2 separate regions of the Homo sapiens genome follow, and region 2 is linked to region 1. Evidence: fine-mapped expression QTL. Tissue or cell type: tibial nerve. Region 1 holds a variant in brackets; the other region holds the start of a gene. All regions are shown on one strand. Distances are between the middles of the regions.

Region 1 (8,178 bases):
CTGGAAACCCACCAGCCAACTTATGAAACAAAAGACTACCAAATACCACTGAGAGTCTCTGCATGCTCTTCTCCTCTTCCTGTTGCATAACAAACCATCCCAAAACTTAGTGGCCTGACACAGTGGTTTATTATTTTTCCCGAGTCTGTGAGTTGCCTGAGTTCAGCTGGATGACCGAGGGGTCCCCGTGGGATAACCGCACCCTCTGCTGTATGTTCATCTGGGAGCTCAGCTGCGGTCCAAGCAACCAAGATGGCCTCTCACCCTCCAAGGGCCTCGCTCCACGTGGCCTCTAACCATTAATGGTCTAGCCCAGCCCTCCTTACAGCTTGTCAATTGAGCTCCAAAAGAGGGGAAGCAGAGGCTGACCATCCTTTAAGACCTGGCACCACAAATCCCAGAATGTTACTTCATTGCATTCTGTTGGTCAAAGCAAGTCACAAAACCAGTTCCGATTCAAGGGGAGGGAAAGACCCTGCAGATGGGGAGCAGCTTGCATGCTCAGGGATGCCAAGAACTGTTGGAAACTCAGACATCATCCGAGCACTCCCCGCCATCCCTCTCCCCTCAGTATTTCATGGGGGACATTAAATGCCTGAATTAGTGCAAAGACACACCTATTCTTAGAACCAAAGACAATCTTGAAAATATGTCAATTTTCCATAAATTAGCCAATCTTAAACTCTACTAATTAGCCAATCCAGGTAATTCCTATCTTGGGTTTCTCTGTTCTGCTTTCTAATTGTACCATATATCCAAGAATCCCTGAGGAAGTTTTGCTTGGATCTGAACACTGTGAAAGTGGTAACAAAATACACATATTATTCTCTGACTTGCTTCCCCACCCTCCAAACCTTTTAAGCCGTGTCCATGTTGAAGCCTATGGTAATATTTCATTCATTTTTACTGTTGTATATTAGTTCATTGTATGAATATACAGCTTAATACCTATGAAACAATGACTAACCATGGCTCTTTGGATTTTTTTCTGATTTTTTTTTTTTTTTTTTACTATCAGAACGCTTTCATGAACATTTCTTTGATGGGGTTCCTGGGGCACCTCAGCACTGGGTCACACAGTGTGCAAATATTCAACTCATAAAATTCTAGCAGATTGTTTTTTGTAAGACATTGAACCAATTTACACTTCCAGCTGCACCGCATAGACATTCTACTCGTTCCACATCCTTGTCAACACTTCATGTTAGCAATACGTTTTTTGCCAATGGATAGGAAATAAAATGGTATTTCATTATGGTTTTAGTTGTGTCTCCTCGATTACTAGAAAAGTGGGGCCGGTTTCACATGTTTATTGAACCCTCAAATTTCCTTTCCTGTAAAATGCCGACTTGCTTTCTTTGGCCTATTTTTCTATTGGTTGCTTTGTTTTCTTACTAATTTGTAGGAGTTATTTATATATTTATACATTTTATATTTTACATATTTTCATTGATGGGTGGTAAGTATCTTACCCAAGTTAGTTCATGGCTTGCCTTCTCACCTTTTTTTTTTTTTTACAAACAGCATCACGTGTACATAGCTTTCTCACTTTCTTTGTGGTCACTTTGATGAACAGAAATTATTGATTTTAATGCAGTCAAATTTATTCATCTTTTTCCTTGTGGTTAGGGCCTTTTATATCATTTCAGAAATCTTTCCCATCCTAAGGTTGAAGAGGCATTATTCTACAATTTCTTCTATTCATTTTAGAGTTTTGTATTTTACATTTTTGAATCCCCAGGAATTTAATCCCTGGTCTGATGTGAGGTAGGAATAACGATTTGTTCTGTTTTTGTTTTTCCTTCCCCACTGAGTTACAGTATATGTCTGCAAGGATCAAGTTTCTCTATATGTAAGGTCTACTTCTGGGCTTTCTGTTTTGTTCATCAGGTCTATCCGTTGGACCATAACCACACTTAAAGTAAGTCTTGCTACCTGGTACTAAAAGTTTCCTACCTTGATTCTCTCCAGCAGTGCCATGCCTATTCTTGGCCCTTTTTGTTCATATGCATTTTAGAAACAACTGCCAAGTTTCATGGAAAATTCTGTTGAGGTTCTTTTTTTTTTTTTTTTTTTTTGTGACGGAGTCTCGCTCTGTCACTCATGCTGGAGTGCAGTGGCGTGATCTCTGCTCACTGCAAGCTCCGCCTCCCAGGTTCACGCCATTCTCCTGTGTCAGCCTCCCAAGTAGCTGAGACTACAGGCACCTGCCACCGTGCTCAGTTAATTTTTTGTATTTTTAGTAGGGATGGGGTTTCACCATGTTAGCCAGGATGGTCTCAATGCCCTCATGATCCGCCCACCTCAGCCTCCCAAAGTGCTGGGATTACAGGTGTGAGCCACCGCGCCTGGCCTTCTGTTGAGGTTCTTAATGGACTTATATGAAATCTATAGATCCACTTGGGGAGAATTGAAATCAGGATATTGAGTGCTCTCACCCATGAACATGGTATTTTTAAAATCTGCATTGTTAATGTCTTCCAACATAGTTTTATACTTTCCTCAGTAGGGGTCTTACAAATCTTTCATTACATTGATTCCTATGTCCCTTATATTTGTTGTTATGATGTTTAATAATTATACCTTTGTTGCCAATGTGTAGAAGTATAATTTATTTTTGAGTATTGATCCAGCAAACTTGCCGGGCTGTCTTTCTTATTCCACAAAGTTCTCTGAGGAAATTTTTTTTTTTTTTTTTTTTTTTGAGACAGAGTCTCACTCTATCACCCAGGCTGGAGTACAATGGTACAATCTAGGCTCACTGCAACCTCCGCCTCTAGGGTTCAAGCGATTCTCCTGCTTCAGCCTCCCGAGTAGCTGGAATTACAGGCCCATGCCACTACACCTGGCTAATTTTTGTCTTTTTAGTACAGACGGGGTTTTGCCATGTTGGCCAGGCTGGTCTCGAACTCCTGACCTCAAGTGATCCACCTGCCTCAGCCTCCCAAAGTGCTGGGATTACAAGCGGGAGCTACAGTGCCCAGCCTTGTGCTTTGTAGACAAGCAATTCTGGTAACTGATTATGAGTAAATTTTGTTTCTTCCATTCAAATAATTAAAACTTTTATTTATTTTTCTTGTGCTATCTTACTGGGTAGGAGCTCTGGCACCATGGTGATAGCCACAAATCTTGTTTTGTTCTTGATTTAAAAGGAAATTCACCTTGAATATAGTTTAGCTGTAAATATTAGAAGAATACTCTTTGAGATTTAAGAAGTTCTCTATTCTTAGTTTTCAAAGTGTTTTTATTTTTAATCAAGGATTGATATTAAATTGTTTTATCAAATGTTTTTTCTGCATCTATTCATATGTTTGCATATCTGTTAATGTGGCGAATATTGCTAACTGATTTAGTCATGAGGTATTTTCTTATATCTATGCTACTGGATTCCATTTGCTAACATTTTGTTTAGGAATTTTAGATATATGTTTTTTGTAACATTGGCCTGTAATGGGAGTAAATTAGTTTGACAAAATCAAATTTTAAAATGCAATGTTTTTGGCCCAGAATGTATCCTATGGATGTACTCCATAGGATATGCAAAAGTATATGTACAAGCATATTTATTGTTATAATAGCAAGAAACTAAAGACAAATGTCCTTTAGTTGGAGACTTGGTATTTTAAAAAAGTACAGTATTTTGTTGCTATTACAAAGAATGAGGTAGATCTATTTGTGCTGATGTGTAAAGTTCTCCGAAATCTATAATTAGGGTAAAGCAGGTGGCAAGAGCAAGAATATATATTTATCTCTATCCCGTTTGTGAATTTTTTAAGTGATAGCGCTATGGCTGTGCATGTGCTATTTCTGGAAGCGCACTCAAAGCCTTGTAACACCAGTTCCCTCTGGAGAGCAGGGATGGCAGGAAGCTGTAGGACTACGTCTCTTTCTACACCTTTTTATAATTCATAAGCATGAGCATGTATTGGTCTCTGTACACCTGCCCCTGGGCTTGAGGAGGCCCTGCTGGCTGCAATGTCTCACTTTCACCTAACTGCACGGAGTCTCAGCCACTTCCCTCCAGCCCTCGAGGACTGTCACCCATCCTAGAATGGAGGCCTTGCATTAGGCCCGGGTTTGGCCAGAAGAATAGAGCAGTTGGAAATGTTAAGTTGACATAAATAGGAAGCTCTGTAACCTCGTGCAAGTGTTGTCTTGGAAACCAGAGCCTG[G/A]GCGGTCTCCATGGAAACCGTGCTCAGCCTTCTGCCTGAAGGAGTTACCACCCACTGGTGCTGGAGTGTTACTTATCAGGGACCTCAGAGCTCCAATAACTGCTTAGGGAATGATGATGGACTGGTCCCTGCCCACCCTGGCCATGTCAGGTGTGGGGCCCTGGGCACCTCCAGCTCTCTGCCTGGGAAAGAAAAAGAGCCCATTTCCATGGGACGTGCCCTCATGGGGAGGCACAGCAGACCACCCAAGGCAGCACATGCAGTGTCCCCGAAGTAAGGAGGGAGTCCTGTGTCCCGAGGTCCCGGGGATCTGGACTCTGCCATTGTCCCCTGGTGCATCTGTACAGCTGTGGTGGGCTAACATCATCTCTGGGCTCCAACTTGCCCTTCTGTAAAATGGGGAGTTTGGACCAAGTCATTCTGAAGGTCTTTTCCAGCTTTAATGACACGTGTTTTGCATGTGACCTGGCAGCACAGGGTTCAGAGGAGGGAGAGATCAGAGTGACTAGTGCAGGCTTCCTGGGGAACCATTTGAGCTTTGAAGGTGGGGAAGAGGAATGTCAGAGAGTGGGCAAAATACAACAGGAAAGGTCCAAATTCACCCTCTGAGGGCCCGGGGCACGGGGGCAGCCTGCTCTCCTCCTGGGGCCCTGTTCCCTGTGGGGACTGGAAGAGAGGCTTTGAGTCTAGGGCCTGGGGCAGCCAGGACTGACGGGGGTGCAGTCCTAGAAGGGTCGGCAGTCACGGTGGCCCACCATGGCATCTCCGTATCCTTGCTGCATGCTGCACCCACTCCAGCTGCCAGAGCACGGAGGCAGAGACGTGGGAGCCGATGAAGGTCGCACGCCAGCCTCCCACCTGTGAGACAAAGGGCCCTGTCACTGGAAGCCACGTCCAGCCTGGCCCCGCAGGAGCCAGGGCTCTGCGCCTAACGGAGGACTGATGGGAAAGGGAAGGCTGGCAGCAGTGAGGTAATGGGGTGGGGGGTGGGGGTGGGAGGCAGGGGGAGGTGGGGAGGACAGGGAGGGGAGGGAGGGAAGGGGAGGGACTTTAGCCAGCACGCTTGTCCCACACTGAGCGAGTGCCCACAGTGTTCAAGCAGTCAGTATGCCAGCAGTTTTTCATTGATTACTTTTGTTCGTGTCTCGCGTTATCTCTGGGGTGAGTATGAATTTCATAGCCACAAACTCAGGTGTCCAAAGTATCTTTATTGGTATCTTTATTTTTCTATAATAGTGTGTTTTGTGTAATAATCTAGTTTTCAAACCTTCCCTTAGTCTAGTGGCAGAATGTGTAATCTTGATATTTTCTAGGTAAACTCGGTCATCACTTCAGTTTGCCCTTTTCAAAGATATTAATTTTTGCCCTCCCTTCCCCACCAGGGGCCAATCATCTGAATCACGTTCCTGTATTCAGGATTTGCCCCTCCAAAACAGTTTTGATGGGAGACACCAGCCACCTACTATTATGCAGCCATGCACCACATAACGACGTTTCAGGCAACAATGACTGCACATACCACAGTGGTCCCGTAAAATTACAATGGAGCTGAAAAATTCCTATTGCCTAGTGACGTCACAGCCATTGTAAGGTCAGAGTGCAACACATCACTCATGTGTTTGTGTTGATGCTGCTGTAAACAAACCTACCGCACTGCCAGTCATATAAAAGTATAGCCCATACAATTATGTGTAGTACTTAATACTTAATAATAATAAACAACTATGTTGCTGGTTTACGTATTTACTACACTGTGTTTTTAATTGCTAATAAGAGTGTACTCTTTTTAGTTATTAAAAAAAAAGTTAACTGTAAACAGACTCAGCAGATCCTTCAGGAGGTTTCCAGAAGAAGGCATTGTCATCATAGGAGGTGACAGCTCCATGCATGCATTGCCTCTGAAGTCCTTCCAGTGGGACAGGATGTGGAGGTGGAGATGGTGATACTGATGGTCCTGACCCTATGTAGGCCTAGGCTCATGTGTGTGTTAGTGTCTAGTTTTTAACTAAAAAGTTTAAAAGTTAAAAAAAAAATTTTTAATAGAAAAAAAGGGGGACTGGGCGTGGTGTAATCCCAGCACTTTGGGAGGCCGAGGCAGGCGGATCACCTGAGGTCAGAAATTCGAGATCAGCCTGGCCGACATGGTGAAGCCCCGTCTCTACTAAAAACACAAAAATTAGCTGGGCGTGGTGGTGCGCACCTGTAATCCCAGCTACTTGGGGGGCTGAGGGAGGAGAATAGCTTGAACCCAGGAGGCGGATGTTGCAGTGAGCCGAGACACACCATTGCACTCCAGCTTGGGTGACAAGAGGGAGACTCTGCCTCAAAAAAAAAAAAAAAGAACAAAAGACTAAGGGTACAAAGAAAATACTTTGTGAAGCTCTATGTGTTGGTGTTTTATGCTAAGTATTATTATAGAAAAGTCCAAAGGTTTTTAAAAATTGAAAAGTTTATAAAGGAAAAAAAAGGTACAGTAAGCTAAGGTTACATTACTATTGAGGAAAGAAAAAATCTTCCGTAAATGTGGTGTAGCCTAAATGTACAGCGTTTACAAAGTCTACAGCAGTGGTCGGTAATGTCCCAGGCCTTCCCATTCACTCACCAACCACTCACTGACTCACCCAGAGCAACCTCCAGTCCTGCAAGCTCCATTCATGGTAAGCGCCTTACACAGGTGTACCATATTTTTATTTTTCCTACCATATTTTGAACGATATTTTTCTATGTTTAGATACACCATTGTGTTGCGATTGCCTACAGTATTCAGTACAGAAACATGCTGCACAGGCTTGTGGCCTAGGAGCAACAGGATAACCCGTATAGCCCAGGTGTGCAGTAGGCTATGCCATGTAGGCTAACATGTATAGCCCAGGTGTGCAGTAGGCTATGCCATGCGGGTTTGTGTAAGTGCACCCTACGATGTTCACACAATGAAACTGCCTGACAATGCATTTCTCAGGACATATCCCTGTTGTTAAGCTGAATCTGTTTTTCCCAGTGCCCCTTGGGGCTGGAGTCAAGCATGTGACCAGGCTCAGCCAATCAGATGTTTCCTCTCTGTATTAGTCCATGTTCACACTGCAATGAAGATTCTACCTGAGACTGGGTAATTTAGAAAGGAAAGAGGTTTAATTGACTCACGGTTCCACGTGGCTGGGGAGGCCTCTGGAAACTTACCATCGCGGCCGAAGGCGAAGGGGAAGCAAGGCACGTGTTAGTCTCACATGTGGCAGGAGAGAGAGAGAGAGCACGGCGGGGAAGTGCCAGACACTTATCAAACAACCAGAACTCATGAGTGACGACTCATGGGAGAAACTGCCCCCCGATCCAATCACCTCCCACCAGGCTCCTCCCTTGATGCGGGGATTACAATGTGAGATGAGATTTGGGTGGGGACAAAGAGCCATACCATATCACACCCAGACCATGCCATAGGGACAAGTGACTCAGGAAGGGGGACAGTGAAAAATGCATCCTGGTAGAGGGGACAACAGCAACACAGAGTCTCGTGGGCATCAGGAAGGTGGTGGCATCATCTCCACATTCTGGAGCCCGCGGTTCCCTTTGTGGTCTCCCAATTGCTGAAGTGGTTTCTCCAGCCCACCCAGTGACTCTGAGCCACCCAGTGTCCCGTCAATCAATTCCTTTCTTCCTAAATTCACCAGAATTGTTCCCAGTGTTTGTGTCACAGTTTTATTGAACACGGGAGCCTTGTGGGGTGTAATCCGAAAACAATTCTTTCTCCCACTACCTTTTCAAGCCTGGTCGGTGGGTTGGGTTCTCCTCTGACCTTGGATGAAATTGAAGGTAGGTTTCTTGGTTTTTCTGGTCCATCCAAGATAATAAAAATCCCTTGGGTAACTTTTATTCACACAAATCCAATTTCAGTAATTACAACATCTAACTATCAAAACAGTTGAAACTCCAGATGGCATTTGAAGTTAAAACCACTCCCTTGCCCCATCCCAGACCTGCCCACATGGGAAGCCTACAAGGCGCGTGGGGA
Region 2 (8,178 bases), 21 kb before region 1:
TTATGGAAATGTTCTGTATCTTGATTGGTTTGTTGGATACATGAATATATATCTTTGTAAAATAGTTTTTCATTTTACCTAAAATTTTTTTTTAATTACCTTCAACACTTAGCTTTCAGCTAGCTCCTCAGTGGAAAAGAGGGGCCTCTGAAGGGGGCAGGTGGAGGTAGGGGAGGTGGAGCTGAAGATAGCTGCTGCTCTTGTCAGAAGAACAGGATCTCAAACTCACCCACTCCCTTACTCAGAGCATGTGATTGATGGAGCACACTTCTCCTTGAGAAGAACTCTGAGGACAATGGGCACACCCTTGTCTGAGCCCGTTACATTTCCAGAAAGCTAATCTACTGACCCTCTATGGATTTGTTACAACCATAAGTCTTACATAACCAGTGCTTTAAATTGTAATAAACTAGATATCTTTGCAAACAACATTCAACTTCTAAATTTTGAGAAACAGGCAAATACATGTAAAAGTTCTCATTTCTGATTTTATTTTAACTAGAGACGGGGATCTCGCTATGTTGCCCAGGTTGATCTTGAACTCCTGGGCTCAAGCAATCCGCCCACCTTGGCCTCCCAAAGTGCTAGGATTACAGGCAGGAGCCACCGTGCACAGCCTGAGATTTTATTTTCAAAGTGAACTGTTGCAGGATTGATTCCAACAGCCCTTCCCACTGGAGCCAATCACACCAGAGTTGATGAGGGAAGGGAAGAGTTAGTGGAGAGGCCTCAGCCAAGAGGCTCAAAATCAACGCAAGGAAGATGAGGACTGAAAAGCAGCTTGGAGATTTCAGCCAGGTGGAGGTGGAGGAATAGAAGCCAGATTGAGGTAGGATGAGTGTAGGGAGTGATAAGGAAATGGAGACTGAATTTTCAAGAGGTTTGGCTAAGAAGAAGAAAAGATAAACAGGGTATCAAGTGGAGGAGGACGTGGGGTCAAAGAAGGGGTTTGTTTTTGTTTTAAGGCTAATACGAGCATGTTTCAGAGCTGACAGGAAGAGCTGAAAGGTTAGGAGGCGGGGGCTGATGGATGTCTCAGGTGTCTGATAGGAGGGGAGGGGTGGAATCCTCATCTAGAGAGTGGCTGGAGAGAAAAGACAGACGCCTCTTCCGCGGCGAGTGGCAGGAGGAGCAGTGGGCAGAAGGGCAGCTGTGGATGGGGGCGGATGTGCTGGCAGGCAGGAGGGCGTTCTTATGTTGATAGACATAAGCCACCTAAAGCCATGGCTTCCAGATCCTCAGCAGCTGAGCTGCTGAGAGGTGTGCAGCAGTCTGGAGAGGGCAGGATGTGGCCGTTGAGAGTGTGGACAGAGTGACAGAGCAGCAGTTCCCAAACCCGAGTGTGCATCAGAATCACTAAGGGCTTGGTGGGCACAGAACACACCCTGAGTTTCGGAATAGACATAGAAAGGGTTTGCCTTCCTAACAAGTTCCCAGGTGCTGCTGGGGCTGCTGGCCGAGGTCCTTGCTTGGAGAATGACTGGTTAAAGAAGCCACAGCTGTCCCACCCTGCAGCTCCAAGGGGACCGCTTTGCATGGCTGCCACCATGCCCCTCCAAGAGGAGGTAGCATGCTGGTCCCAAGGGGCATGATGGTATCACTTTCACCAACAGAACTTAGCAGTCCCTGAGCAGAACCTGGAACCAGAAAGGGGGACAGGAGAAGCTCTGCCACTTGGGTAAGATGCAAGAACAGAACAAAGAGGATTCAGGTGCTGGCAGGAATGGCTGTTGGACTGAGCTGAGGGCTCCTGGCCCAGAGTCACTCTCCTCACTCCCAGTGCGGACTCTCATTTCCCTGTCACTTGTCCACACCCTGTGTCTTTCCAGTTCCCACCCAAATCTCCTGTCTTGCATGGAGCCTGGGCTGCACCACGACCGCATTCACCCTGCTGTCCTTCCCTGAGTCCACAAAACTCAGTATGCGACATGGACCTCCCGCAGCCTCCTGGCTCCCCTTGGATTATTGACTGGCTATACTGTACTCCATCAAATATAAGATGCTATCACTTGTGAAAGACATTACTTAATCACTGCCAATTATAATTGTAAAAGATATCTTGATTCTCAAGATGTTAAAATGTGAAGAAATGTGTTTCTTAGAATCCATGGAATATGGATTCTTGAGCATCTGAACAGGTGATCTGCAGAGCATGGTGCCCCCCAAGACCCATTCAGGGGGGTCTCCAAGGTCAAAACTATTTTTTGCAACAATATAAGTCATTATTTGCCCTTTTCACTCTCATTCTCTCATTAGCGTGCAGTGGGGTTTTCCAGAGACTACATGTGTGATGACATCGCTTTGATGCCCAATGGAATATATGTATTCTTGTGTCTTAAAACTTTCTGAGTTTTAGTTTCTAATATGGTAAATGTTGATAGACATAAGCCACCTAAACAAAAGCTCTTGGGGTCCTGAAACCAAAAAATTTAGGAATCACTGCACTAGGTTGTACGCCCAGCACTTGGCCGGCATTGAGTCCATGGTCAAGCGTAAGGAGAGGCCCGAGGGGGATGTGCACAGTGCTGAAGGTGCACAGGAAAGGGACTTATCCCAGCCGGTCTGGGAAGGCCTTCCAGGGGAAGTGGGGTGCTCGCCTGCCAATCTCAGGCATGTGGATGCTTCACCCAGGTGGCCCTGTCTTGCTGACCAGAGATTTGTGCCAAACCAGCTCTGCGACCCTGGGTTTAGTCATGCTACCTTCTATCACTATTAACATGAGGCTAATGTGTAGGTCACAGAGGCTGTGATGAAAATTAAATAATTGAATGCACGTGAAAGAATGCCACTCATAGAAGGTTTCACATGACCACATCCTTGGTGGCTGGGTTGTGTCTTGGGCATCTCTGTTTTCTGCCACAGAGCTTAACACAATGCTTGGCACACAGGGGTGCTTGGAAAACACTGAGTGAAGGAATGCATGTTGGGGGTGTGGCCTAAGCAAGACGTGGAGCTTGCCTTCTCCAGACACCAGGTTTCCCATGGGATCTGGAGCAGGTGATGAGCGGTAGTCCATAACACCTTCCTCTCTGGCTCTGTGCCAAACCAGATTCCTCCTCGTCTCCTCCAAACCATCTGTCTTCTTCCACCTCCCCATTCCCTCCCCCCAGTTCCCCAGGCTGGTGGCCTTAGCATCAGTTAGACTTTCTTCTTTCCCCACCTGTCTGTCCTCAAGGTTGCTAGGTTCATCCAAGATCTGAGCCAAGAGGTCCGGGTCTGGGACGTGGGCGCTAAGGGCCCAAGGCAGCTGCAAAAGACCTGAAAGGTGAGAAGAGAGATCAGTGGAGGACCCCGGACTGTCCTCAAGAAGCGGACGGACTCCCCTGCCCTCCACTGGCAGCCCAACAGCAGAACCAAAGCGGACCACTCAGCACAACCTGTGTGTGTTGCTGGGCGCTGTCCCTGGCCCAGTCTGGACCAGGAGCAAAGAGGAAAGATTCAGGGCGTTAGTGCCAAGAGCAGCCATCCCAGCAACAGAAGCCCCTGCTTCCCCAGTACCCGTGATACTTGGGAGGAGCAGAGTCTTGAGTGGAACCCGAGCCTCTGACACCCGCCCTGGGGGTCTTCCCTCCACTCTCGCCAGGGTCCTCCTGGATGAGTGAGACAAGGGCAGTTCAGGAGGTCACCCAATAACTGAGGTCGCAGCAACACGAAGGAGCCAGGGAGCAGGGGCGGCCTTCCCTTCTCCACTCCAGGCGGCTCCAGCGTGCACCCCAGGACCCCCCAGGAAGGTTTTGCAGGAATAAAGAATGAAGGCAGAAGCAAGATGGAGGATGAAGGAGGCGTGGATGGCTTCAGAAGGCAAGACGGAGGCAGCAGTTTGGCGCCTGTCTCAAAGCCTCCTCCCCGCGCCAAGGACAGGTCGGAGGAGGGGGGCGTGGGGACAGGTAGAGCGGAGGCTCCAGCGTTTCTAAAGGGGAAGACCTGAAGTGGGGCAGGAGAGACGGGTGAGTTGTCTGGAAGCTGCATTTGCCTGGCAAACACTGGGTTAACAAAGACTTGCGTTGCGGGGATGCTGGCCTTGGACAGGGAATGCGAAGGGATTATGCTACGGAGAACGGATCCGAGCGTGACGGCTGAATGAATGAGTGAGCGAGTGAGTGAGTGAGTGAGTGAGCGAGCGAGTGAGTGACTGTGCGAGCGAGCGGCAGAAGGAACTCCGACCCGCCCCAGGTGCGGAGCGGCGCGCCCGGCAGGGGTCACTGCGGGCCCCGCGGGCGGGAAGGGGGCGCAGGCGCGGCGGGCGCCGGGGCCCTCCCGCGGGGACGGGGCGGGGAGGGCTGGGGGTGGGGTTAGAGAGAGGGACGCGAGCGGGATCCAAACTTCCGGTGCCTGCAGAGCTCGGAGCGGCGGAGGCAGAGACCGAGGCTGCACCGGCAGAGGCTGCGGGGCGGACGCGCGGGCCGGCGCAGCCATGGTGAAGATTAGCTTCCAGCCCGCCGTGGCTGGCATCAAGGGCGACAAGGCTGACAAGGCGTCGGCGTCGGCCCCTGCGCCGGCCTCGGCCACCGAGATCCTGCTGACGCCGGCTAGGGTGAGAGGGTCTGGGGCTCAGGCGGTGGGGCGGGGGACCCAGGCTCACGACCCAGGCGCGCCCCGTCGGCCCTGGGGACTGCCCGAGGCGCGTCAGGGCCCCAGAGCCCGGGGTGGAGCAGGGTTGGGAAGTCTCGAATGGTTGCTTATCCCAGAATGAGGAGGGGGCTTAAGTCCCGTACTAAAGCGGCAGCCAAAAGCTGAAGTCCGAAGAGTGGGAGGCGTCTGGTTCTGGTCTTCAGGTGGAGAAGTGCTCGAGGTCTCTTCCAAAAGTGGGGGCCCCCTCGCCGCCTTATAGGGGGAGGGGGCTGGTCCGAAGAAGTTCGAGGAATGTTGGTGGGGGGGTACGCGTCTGGTTCCAATCAACTGGGAAAGCCGCGAGTCGAGTCCCCAGGTGGGGGATGGGAGGAGGGTTAGACGTAGTTTTTCCAAAGTAGGGCGGTGGGACCTGATTGGCTGGGGAATTGGGGGTGGGGGGGTCTGGTACCAACGAAGAGGGTGGGGCCGTTGATTTCCTCCGAAATTGGGGGCTGCGAGGGACAGAGGATGTGCTGCTGGCCTGCACCGGAATTGACAGACCAGAAAGTGATGAAATGGAAATCAGCCAGAACCGACGGCGCTGCGGCCTCTGGACGTCGGGGGTCCGAGGCCGGGTGCCCCCTTCCCACCCCACGCCCTGCCGTCTGGGCCTCCCTGCTCCCCTCTCTTTTCTCCATTCCCAGCCTCTCGCTGGGCTGTCCCCCGACCCCACGGGGAGGGCTCCCAACTGCCCCAGTGCCCTTGCATCCTGGGTCCCCGGGCTCTGTGCGCGTTCCCCCACCCCTGTCATCCCCCTCCCCTACCCCGGCTTCCTCCACTTTCCCTCTGGCCGGGGGGGAGAGAAGGCATTTCCGCCGTGGAAAACTGTCTGAGCTGCGTGCCTTGTGTCCGGGAAGGGCCCGCAGGGGGCAGAACGCGTGGCGGGCAGGGACAGGGAGGGAGGGAGAGCTGGCCCAGCCAGGTTTTATTGTGCCTGGCAAAGGTGTCTACGTGGGCGCCGCCCCCAGCGGTCTTGTGGCTTACCAAGCCCATGTCCTCCCCGCCTCCCCACCCCGCATTGAGGCAGGACTGAGAAAGTCTTTGTCCACTGCTTCCCCACTTCCAGATGCAGGCTTCTGAAGAGTCTTCCTGAACGCCTAGCCCCCTCCCCAGGTTTTGTGGCTCAGGTTCAGTCTTGCCTGGGGCATTAAGGGGCCTGCAGAGGATGACCTGGACCCTGGAGGAGGGGGCGCCGGAGAGGGCCGTCAGAGTTGGGTGTCAGCCTGGGCAGAGACCCTGAGTGAGGAATGCCAGGAGACTGAGAACCCCCTGCCCTTTTATGGTGGTCACTGCAGCAACCAGTGGCTCAGAGCCACAAGAGTTCAACAACCACCTAGGCGAGGTTGGGGGTTGCTGTGCACCCCATGAGAGCAGCTCCCCCCTTTTCATCTGAAGCTTAGGTGGAGGGGGCGCTCCATATTTGAAGAAGATGGTTCTGCAGCTTTAAAAGTTTGCAAGGGGTTCTTCAAGACTCCTTTTCTTTGGAAGGGAAGCTGCCCTCCACTCAGCCTGGGGAGGGGCAGGGATGGGGGCAGGAGGCAGCACGCTTGCCCATCTCTTTTCCTAGCCACCTCTTCCTGGAGATATTTGAGGAGGGAGGACCAGGTCAGACAGTGGGAGGGTGTTATTCCAACTCCATCAGAAGGTCCCCCAGATTTTGCAGGAGCGGCACATTCTCCAGCCGCAGCCTGCTGATGGCATGGGTTTGGGCAGTCTGACAGAGACCTGCATCTCGGGGCATAACTGACATCCTAGCTTCTGGCTTCTCATCAGGCTCTGAAATTGAGCGTCCTTTCTTCCCCCTCACCCAGCATGAAATGGAAATATCAACATCTTCCTGCGTGCTGTTTGTAATGGCCTTGAGCCTGCTGAGTACCTCCTCCCTCAAACTTTGTCAGTTGGGCAGGGTCCCCTCCCTCTCTAATTGGCAAGGGGGAGCTTAGGACTATGCGATCTGGGGAAAGAATTAGAATCCTGGCATCTTTAGGACAGAACTGCATGTTAGTAAACTTTCACAGCTTCCCAAGGCCCTGGCGTGGTGCAGAGGGACTTTAGGTGTTGCAAGTTGGCTCTGCCCATCACCTGCTAGATTTGGAGCCTTGGAAACAGTTCACTTCTGCGGGCCTCCTGTTGCCCCACTTGGCCAACCCGCACATTTCCTCCTTACCCAGTTTCTGGCAAGGAGCCAGGCCTCGTCTCCTGCCCCCAGCAGTGAGCAGGCAGGAGGCCCATTTCTCAGCTGTAGCTCTGTGAGCCGAGGGATGGCAGCCAGGAGGCTGCTTTCTCAGGGCAGGGCGTGTAGATTTTGTCCCGTACTGTTGGGAATGCCCAGGAAAGCTTATTAAAACGTTTCTTCTGGCTGGCAGTGACCCCAGAACCCTCCTTGGTGTCTGAACTGGACTCCAAAACAAGATTTATTTTATTTTATCTATTTTATTTTATTTTATTTTTTTTTTTGAGACAGAGTCTCACTTTTACCCAGGCTAGAGTTCCGTGGCACGATCTTGGCTCATTGCAACCTTCACTTCCAGGTTCAAGTGATTCTCCTGCCTCAGCCTCCCAAGTAGCTGGGAATAAAGGCACCTGCCACCATGCCCGGCTAATTTTTGTATTTTTAGTAGAGACAGGGTTTCACCATGTTGGCCAGACTGGTCTCAAATTCCTGACCTCAGGTGATCTTCCCACCTCAGCCTCCCAAATTGTTGGGATTACAGGTGTCAGCCACCACACCCGGCCCAAAACAAGATGTAAAAAGTGATCCGCAGGAGGAGCACTCGGTGAACAGATGATTGTGCGGTGAACAGATGATTGTGCGTTGGGGCAGTTCTTGACCTGTGTCCAGGCCCAGAGTGAGGGCGGGGTGGGGGCAGGGTGAGGCGGCAGGAGCACCCTCTCGGTGGGCACTGCCCCTGCTTCTGAGCAAAAACTGCAACACAAGGAGGATTTTGTCTGTGGACCTGAGACTGGAAGGAAGTGCCTCAGTGGGCCAGGGAGGGATGGGGGTGGGGGCCAGCTGGGCTTCCAGCTGCCCGGCCTCCCCCCCTGGTGTTTTGACTCTGAGATAATGAGGAGCTGGGACACTGCCAGCTTGGGAAGTGGGCTGGACCGGAAGCACCCCCTGGGACAGCAAAGCACTCCCTCCCAGCGCCAACTGGATCCCTCCTCCCCTTTGGGGGCCCACTGGCTGGCCATGCCCCTCTTAGCCTGCCCCTTCTCCCCACACCCTGCCTGTGCCTGCACTCACACACACACACACACACACTTATGCACACACATGCACGCACAGATGTGGGCATGTAGAGGCTCACGAGCTGGGGCTGTAAGGGGAGAAAAACAAGTTAAATACAATCATCTTCTTACCTCTGTAATTTTCTCCTTGGCATTTGCCTTTGATTAATGGTCCTGTGTCACCCCCTCCCCAGCCTGCATACCTGGGGATCAGATTTCAGTTTCCTAGTGTGTCCTGGTCTCAGGCCCTCGGCAGGAGGAGCTGGGTCTCCTGGAGCGGTTGGGGGAGGGTCCCGTGCCAGCCAGGAGGGCAAATCTGGCCAGCTTAGCCCTACCCCA

What was found. PIP is the estimated chance that this variant, and not a neighbour inherited with it, causes the effect.
Region 2: it holds the start of ITM2C, and the variant in region 1 is fine-mapped to the expression of ITM2C in tibial nerve (GTEx, PIP above 0.99).

Annotation. Positions count from the first base shown.
Region 1 is chr2:230,881,827-230,890,004 of GRCh38, forward strand. It overlaps GCSIR (GPR55 cis regulatory suppressor of immune response RNA), which reads left to right and starts at 4,720. Exons shown (of 4, transcript NR_038238.1): 1 at 4,720-5,143. RefSeq lists an enhancer at 4,083-4,152. The variant G/A (reference allele first, on the strand shown) is at 4,173.
Region 2 is chr2:230,860,612-230,868,789 of GRCh38, forward strand. It overlaps ITM2C (integral membrane protein 2C), which reads left to right and starts at 4,331. Exons shown (of 6, transcript NM_030926.6): 1 at 4,331-4,534. The coding sequence starts at 4,415. RefSeq lists enhancers at 1,279-1,889, 3,015-3,673, 4,332-4,990, 4,991-5,647 and silencers at 4,081-4,450, 4,551-4,640, 5,431-5,530.